3 separate regions of the Homo sapiens genome follow, and regions 1 and 3 are each linked to region 2. The links come from fine-mapping of genetic effects on gene expression. A gene starts in region 2. Each other region holds a variant in brackets. All regions are shown on one strand. Distances are from middle to middle. Region 1 overlaps TEX11 (testis expressed 11). Region 2 holds the start of SLC7A3 (solute carrier family 7 member 3). Region 3 overlaps DLG3 (discs large MAGUK scaffold protein 3).

Evidence for each region. PIP is the estimated chance that this variant, and not a neighbour inherited with it, causes the effect.
Region 1: its variant is fine-mapped to the expression of SLC7A3 in whole blood (TOPMed, PIP 0.93).
Region 3: its variant is fine-mapped to the expression of SLC7A3 in whole blood (TOPMed, PIP above 0.99).

The regions. Positions count from the first base shown.
Region 1 is chrX:70,789,784-70,792,551 of GRCh38, reverse strand. The region is part of intron 9 of TEX11 (testis expressed 11); the gene reads left to right. Among named protein-coding and RNA genes, the nearest start is that of SNORD3E, 55 kb to the left of the region's middle. The variant A/T (reference allele first, on the strand shown) is at 1,485.
Region 2 is chrX:70,930,061-70,932,828 of GRCh38, reverse strand. It overlaps SLC7A3 (solute carrier family 7 member 3), which reads left to right and starts at 1,733. Exons shown (of 12, transcript NM_032803.6): 1 at 1,733-1,852. RefSeq lists an enhancer at 1,989-2,490.
Region 3 is chrX:70,466,595-70,469,362 of GRCh38, reverse strand. The region is part of intron 9 of DLG3 (discs large MAGUK scaffold protein 3); the gene reads right to left. Among named protein-coding and RNA genes, the nearest start is that of DLG3-AS1, 12 kb to the right of the region's middle. The variant G/A (reference allele first, on the strand shown) is at 1,068.

The sequences.
Region 1 (2,768 bases), 140 kb after region 2:
TGCTATGGTTTTAGTCATTTTTTTTTCTTTTGTTAGCTTTGAGGTTAGTTTGTTTTTGTTTTTCTAATTCCTCTAGTTGTGATGTTACATTGTTAATTTTAGATCTTTCTAACTTCTTGATACAGGCATTTCATGCTATAAACTTTCCTCTTAACACTGCTTTTGCTGCATCCCAGATATATATTTGTGTGTGTATATATATATATATATATATATATATATATATATATATATATTTTTTTTTTTTTTTTTTTTTTTTTTTTTGAGACAGAGCCTTGCCCTGTAGCTCAGGCTGGAGTGCAGTGGGACCATCTTGGCTCACTGCAACCTCTGCCTCCTGGGTTAAAGCGATTCTCCTGCCTCAGCCTCCTGCATAGCTGGAACTACAGGCGTGTACCATGCCTGGCTAATTTTTTTTTTTTTTTTGAGACGGAGTTTTGCTCTTGTTGCCCGTGCTGGAGTGCAATGGCGCAATCTCGGCTCACCACAACCTCTGCCTCCTGGGTTCAAGTGATTCTCCTGCCTCAGCCTCTCGAGTAGCTGGAATTACAGGCATGTGCCACCATGCCCGGCTAATTTTGCATTTTTGGTAGAGACGGAGTTTCTTCATGTTGGTCAGGCTGGTCTTCAACTCCTGACCTCAAGTGATCCACCCGCCTCGGCCTCCCAAAGTGCTGGGATTACAGGCGTGAGCCACTGCATGGCCCATCCCAGAGATTTTGGCATGTCGTGTATCTTAATTAATTTCAAAGTATTTTTTATTTCTGCCTTAATTTTATTGTTTACCTGAAATCACTCAGTAACAAGTTGTGCTTAATTTCCAGGTAATTGTGTGGTTTTAAGGGATCTTCTTTGGTATTCATTTCTATTTTTATTGCACTGTGGTCTGAGTGTATGCTTGGTATGATTTCAGTTTGTTTGAATTCATTGAGATGTGCTTTATGCCCGAACATGTGGTCAATCTTAGAGTATGTTCTGCATGCAGATGAGAAGAATGTGTGTTCCATGGTTGCTGAGTGACATATTTTGTAGAAATCTATTAGGTCCAATTGTTCAAGTGTTGAATTTAAGTGCAGAATTTCCTCATAAGTTTTCTGCCTTGATGATCTGTCTAACGCTGTCAGTGGGTTCTTGAAGTTCCCCTTATTATTGTGTGACTGAGGCTATTCATAGGTCTAGAAGTACTTGTTTTATGAATCAGCGTTCTCTAATGTTGGGTGTATATATATTTAGGATAATTAAGTCTTCTTGTTGAATTGAATCCTTTATTGTTATGTAATGTCCTTTGTCCTTTTTGACTATTGTTGGTTTAAAGTCTGTTTTATCTGATATAAGAATAGTGACCCCTGCTTTTTTTTCTGTTTTTATGATAGATCTTTCTCCATCACTTTACTTTGAGCCTGTAGGTGTCATTACATGTGAGATGCATCTCTTAAAGATAGCAGATGATGGTTTCCAGCTTCATCCATGTCCCTACAAAGGAC[A/T]TGAACTCATCATTTTTATGGCTGCATAGTATTCCATGGTGTATATGTGCCACGGTATACATATGTAACAAACCTGCATGTTGTGCACATGTACCCTAAAACTTAAAGTATAATAATAAAAAAAAGACAGCAAATGATTGGGTCTTGTTTTTTATCCAACTTGCCATTCTTGAAACTTCTGACCTGTGTGCTCAAACGATGCAGGATTGGGACTGGGCCTGCAGCTTTGTACTCTGGCCCCTCATAGTTGAACACTAGCTGTCCTAGCGGGGCTGAAGTGCACCCAAGCCACTGGCAAAGCACTCAGGCAGGGCAGTGGAGGCTATGCTGTGTGCTTGCTCTTGTAGGAGAATCCAGGCAGGAGCCTTGGGAGGTGTTGCCGACAGAGGGGCATGCAGATCAGATGCACTCCAGTACTGCAGGAAAGCCATCTCTGCTCTATCCTCTCTCTTGGCCCAGCAGTCATCAGGGTCGTGTTTTACTGCAGCTGCCTTGCATGCAGAACCTTCTGGGCTCTGCGCAGGCTTGAGCTCTGCCTCTGTCTACTCTCCTGGCATTTTACCCTGCCAATTTAAATGTCTATGGAGTTTGTGGAATCTCTTGTAGCTAGGATCCCAGAGGTCCGTGGTGGGAGTGTGTTGACTCATAATTCCTTCATTTACCCCTTCCTTAGGACCTGTTGAAGGCTGAGAGCTGGTCCTGGTGCTTGGTGACTCCATGCGGAGTTCCCAGTTTCCTGTGCCTCTTCCAAGTCAGTGTCTGTGTTGCCTCTCTGTTGACTTTCAGTGTTTTCTCTCAAAAGATGTGTTTGAAGTGTGATGGTTTACTTGATATTTGGTTTCTCTTGGTGAGAGAGGTGCTTCCCAGCTGTGTCTTGAACCATCTTGTTCCTTATCCAAGTTTGTACTTTTTAATCATCATCTCTACATTCTCTCCACAGCTCTGTCTCTGTAACCACCATTCTACTCTGTGCTTGTACGAGTTCAGTTGTTTTAGATTCCAGGTACAATTTAAAACATGTGGTATTTGACTCTCCGTGCTGGACTTATTTCACTTAGCATAATATCTTCCTGGTTCATCCATGTTGTCACAAATCACAGTTTTTCCATTCTTTTAAAGGCTGAATAGTATTCCATTGTGTATATAATGCTACATTTTTTAATCCATTTATTTGTTGAGGGACACTTAGGTGGATTGTGTAACTTGGCTATTGTGAGTAGCGTTGCAGTGAACCCAGAAGTGTAGACGTCTCTTTGACAAACTGACTTCAAATATTTGGGGTAA
Region 2 (2,768 bases):
AAGACTGGATTTCATGGCATTTGGATTTTATCTCTGTGATAAATAATCAATCTCATAATCCAATCAATCACCTAATCTAAGCAACCAGATCATATACACTAATATATCGTTCCAAATATGTATCAAGTTTTTCTTGAGTACTTTCCATGTGCCAGGCAGGAAGACTTGACTTCATAATCTCATCTAAGCATCACAACAACCTTGTGAAATATGTATATTATGTCCAGAAACTGAGGCTCAGGGATGTTAGGTAATCCACAGTGGCTGAGCTGTGAGTTTAACCTAGGTGCAATTCCAAACACAGCACTCCTAACGTCTATGTAATAAGGTTTCAGTTGTATAGTGTGTGTTTTCTTTCCCTAGTTAGATTAGGACTAGGAGGGCAAGGATTTTATTTTATGTTTCCTTCATAGTCTCTTCATTGCTGTACCAGCTACTACACATAGTGCTCAATAAATGCTCAATAAATACTTAATGAATGCCAAATGGAGCTGCAGCTGGTTGAAAATACCAATTCTTTCAGAACGGATTTAGATTTTAGATTCATGGGTAATATATTCATCATGGATCATTAAAAGAAGCAAGGATATTTGAGTCCATCCTTAGTCCCCAAGATGTCTTGGTGGAGCAGGGACCACACTTTCACAACCTTTGGTGCTTTCTTATGAGTAAGAATTGATTGGGTCAGATGGATTATGGATCTGACCCAATGTGATCATTCGTAGATTCTTCGGGTCCTTTTCTGTTTCCTAGTATCTCCTAGCCTAAACGGACCTACCCTGCTGCTGATGCCTCTCCCTGTTTGTCTTTCCTTGTGGCCACATCCCTCTTCTTGTTCATTTGAATAAGATATGGTGCCTACGGGAGGCAGGCATTGAAGTCCAACAGGCCAGGTTTTATCAAAGGTGGTCAACAATAATTATGGTGTGGTGTCAAACAAGTCATGCCTCTGAGCCTCAGCTTACACATCAATAAAATGGAACTAAACAAGCTTCCTCCTCCAAGATGTTGGTATTGTCAGAATTTCACATTTAATAGTTTAATATTTATAGGCAGCTGGAGACACATTATAGAGAGATTGGGGCCTATAAATCAATTTAGACTGGATTAATTATCTGTATACAGGTGGCTTGAAATCATCTTCCATTCTCCTGCTGCCTGCATTAGAAACACCCACAGCTGAGCGTGAGAGCTGAAGGGTCAGGGTCAGATGTGTAGACAAGAAAGCTAAGGAAGAAAGACTGAGAGTGAGGTGGAGACTCCCCTGCTGTGTTCCGCTTCACTCCTGACACACACACACACACACACACACACACACACACACACACGCACCCAACTCCCCCCCATCACACCCCACCTACCTTCCCCATTCCTGCCCAGAATCACTGGTCCTAACAGGGCACAGAGGTGGAAAATCTCATGGGTTCTTTGGCCAGGAAGCCTCTTATTGTCCTGTTCTGACGACCAGCGAGACAAATGGGAAAAGACTGCCCTCCCCCTTTTCTCGCTCCCCGGCACGCCAGGCTTGCTAGTGAGGATGGGACGCAGTCTCAGGCCCCACGCAATCCTTTTGCAAAGCCAAGAAGTGTGTGTGTTGTGTGTGTGTGTGTGTGTGTGTGTGTGTGTGTGTGTGTGTATTGTGTGTAGCGAGGAGGATTGGGGGTGGGATCCCATGACGTTACCGGCTCCGCCTCCTGGTGTATATAAGGGGCGCTTGGCGCGCAACGACCCCAAGCCGCAGCTTTGAAGCCTGAGCGGCCGAACTCGGCAGCTCCAACCCAACTCGGCTTAACTCCGCCTCACCGAGCCCAGTCCAAGACTCTGTGCTCCCTAGGTTTGCAACAGCTCTCTGGTAAGCGTTGGGGACCCACACGTGTGTCGGAGGGGGGACGGCGAGGGTCCGGGCGTACCTAGGATTCTCTGGCAACCATGGCATGCAGTTGCATCAACGGGGCCGTGACCTGTTGCTGGCGAGACCCCCGCCCCGGGAGTTAGGGCTCCCGTCTCCACCCCAGCTCCAAACCATTTCTAGATGGGGGCAGGAAAATCTGGGACCTGAGTCGGGGGGCATCGGGTGGAACCCTTCCTCTCTGCTGAGAGGAGAGTGCGAGCAATCTCGGGCTGCCCTGGGGCCCCTCTGGGGGCGCATCTCCAAATCTTTAGATGTCGAAGCCCCGCCTCGCTGTTGATGCTTGCAGGTCAGCCTAGCAGGGCTTGGGAGGAAGTAGGGGAACATTTGCTTACTCCCCTGGGCGACAGCTGCGCTAGTTGAGCAGTGTGGGCTTGGTGAGGAGGGATGGAATTGAGTCGGTGCTCACTTTTAATCTGCAGCGAGGTTGGTCCCCTCTCCCTCTGGGGGGTCTGGGGGCTGTGTCTGTTTGAAGCCCCGGGGGAAGCCCCTGGGTGGAGCTCTGTTTAATTCCCAAATAGCCACAGGCCAAGGAACTGACACATTAGGTTTCAAGATTCCTGGGTTGAGATTAGGATAAACCCTATCAGTTTCTGGCAAGAGAAAGAGACCTAATATTGATTGAGCACTTACTAGGCGCCAGCCACTCTACTTCAGGGGGCTTTCACGTGCCATTTCTGAAATTAGCCCTTCCAAAAACCTTGTAAGGTATTGTAATTCCTACTTGTTTATGAAGAAACTGAGGTTAGAGGTAAAGTGACTTGCCTTTGTCCCTTCCATATCCCCGTCCTCATTTCCCAATAGCTCCTTTGCTTGGTGGAGGGGGTCTTGTAATTCGCTTTCAGAGTTTAGGGATAAT
Region 3 (2,768 bases), 460 kb after region 2:
ATCAGAACATTTCTAGGAATCACAAACTTGTCTTTATAAAATAGTTATGGGGCCAGATGCAGTGGCTCACACTTGTAATCATAACATTTTGGGAGGCCAAGGTGTGAGGATTGCTTGAGGCCAGGATTTTGAGGCCAACCTGCACAACATATTGAGACCCTGTCTTTGCAAAAAAAATAAGAGAATTAGTCAGGCGTGGTGGTGTACGCCTGTAGTCCCAACTACTCAGGAGGCTGAAGCAGGAGGATCGCTTGAGCCCAGGGGTTCAAGGCTACAGGGAGCTATGATCACACCACTGCACTCCAGCCTGGGTGTCAGAGTAACACCTTGTCTGAAAATAATAATAATGAAGCCTATTACTTGGGTTAGTTTCTAATGATGGGTCCATTGTTTAGAGGTGTTGTCTAACACCTCTAAAACTAGATAATTTCTAAGATCCCTTCTAATTATGACATCATTATGATTTTATGACCAAATCAATGAGGTCCATACGGAATCAAAGTTAGAACTAGTCTGATTTAATTTTTAAATATAATTTAGAGAGGGAAATCTTCAAATCTGCAAATAATTCTAAACTCTTTGGGTAAAAACAATACCAAATCAATAAACATAAATTACCAAAAATATTTCTCAAGGCTATGTGAGAGGGCAGAAATATGGCAAATAGGCTTCAATGGGCAAATATTGCTTGAGGAAAAATAATTTCAGTTCTACTTTTAGAATAATTTTGGAACTATGACTAACCCAGAAAGCTGGGTGTCCTTATTCTGGTCCCTGCACTGTCACTGTGTATGCTTCCTCGGCCATACACACACATAGCCAGGGTTCTGGATACCATCCTGAAGGATACTGAGAAGAAAACAGAAAACAAAACATGCCGGATCAGCATGCCATAAAAATTTCCAGTTTATCCCTATTGACTGGATGTTTTTGTCCCCCAAAGAGCTTAGTGAGGATGCAAGAAGAGCTACTGAGTGAAAATGCTATACTAGGCCAGGTGCCGCGTGGCTCACTCCTGTAATCCCAGCACTTTGGGAGGCCGAAGCGGGCGGATCACCGGAGGTCAG[G/A]AGTTTGAGACCAGTCTGGCCAACATGGTGAAAACCCATCTCTACTAGAAATACAAAAATTAGTTGGGCATGGTGGCGGGCACCTGTAATCCCAGCTACTCAGGAGGCTGAAGCACAAGAATCGCTTGAACTCAGGAGGCAGAGGTTGCAGTGAGCCGAGATCGCGCCGCTGCACTCCAGCCTGGGCGACAGAGTGAGACTCCATCTCATAAACAAAAATGAAACAAACAAACAAAAAAAAATCTACCTGGTCTAAAATGACTGGAATGAAAAATGCCTTGATCTCACATCAAACTAAGAAAAAGTATTCACAGGATCTTGCCTTCTCACCTATTCCGGATCACCCAGCAGCTCAGGGTAAAAGCCTCAATAGGGCCTTCTCTATATCTTAAAGCAATTTCATATAGCATATTCAAATGAAAGATTAACAGAGTCTTTGGCTCTTGCAACCCATAAGCCAAAGTATACATAAAGACCACCAAAACAAAATACCTCATCCAAAAAACATGAGAATAAAGACAGATTTGTACCTTTTCCCTGTTCTCCAGGTGGTGGGTACACTTGATAAGAAGAATCTTTTCCACTTAACAGAGATACTATAACACAGTAACTAAAACACACACATTTTATGATGAAGTTTGACAACTTGAGTTAATGTAACCAATTTCTATGTTTTACCAGGTCAATGGAGAGTCTCGATTCAAATGTTCTTCACAGTTGTCACACCCACAGGATCACAAACTCAACTGAATCTCCTTTAGGTCAAGTTTCTGTGGAAGAAACTCAGAAAATGGGACCTGGAGAAATACTCTTCTCATCTAAGTTGTCAAAACACCTATGGTCATTTTTCAGTAACTGATAATCCAAAAGTAAAATATTAAAGTCCAAATCGTGTGTGTGTGTGTATAAAAGAATTTTATTTATAATAAAGGTGGTACTTCAAAAATGCAGAGAAATGATGGATTATCTAACAAATGGTACTGAGGTAATTCATTAACATTTGGAAGAAATTAAGTTAGTACCCTACTTTACATCACAAATCAACTCCAGGCAAGTTAAGGTTTTAAACACAAAAACAGGCCAGGCACAGTGGCTCTTGGCTGTAATCCCAGTGCTTTGAGATGCCAAGGCAGGAAAATCACTTGAGGCCAGGAATTTGAGAGAGCAGCCTGGGCAACACAGTGAGACCCCATCTCTACAAAAAAACCACAAAAATTAGCCATGCTTGGTAGCATGTGCCTGTGGTCCTTAGCTACTTGGGAAGCTGAGGCAGGAGGATCACATGAGCCTAGGAGTTTAAGGTTCCAGTGATCTATGATCATGCCACTGCACTCCAGCCTGGGTGACAAAGCCAGACCCTGTCTCTAAAAAAATAACAAATACAAAAACAAAAATATTAAATAACTAGAATAAAACTCGGACAGTATTTATTTGCCCTCGGGTAGGCAAGGCCCTTCTAAACCTCTGGGCACAGGCAAAATATACAAAACATTAATAGATTTGACCACATAAAAACATATGAAACATCTGTACATCAAGATAAAATTTAAAAAACAGGCTGGGCGCAGTGCCTCACACCTGTAATCCCAGCACTTTGGGAGGCTGAAGTGGACAGATCACTTGAGGCCAGGAGTTCGAGGCCAGCCTGGCCAACATGGTGAAACCCCCTCTCTACTAAAAAATACAAAAATCAGCCGAGTG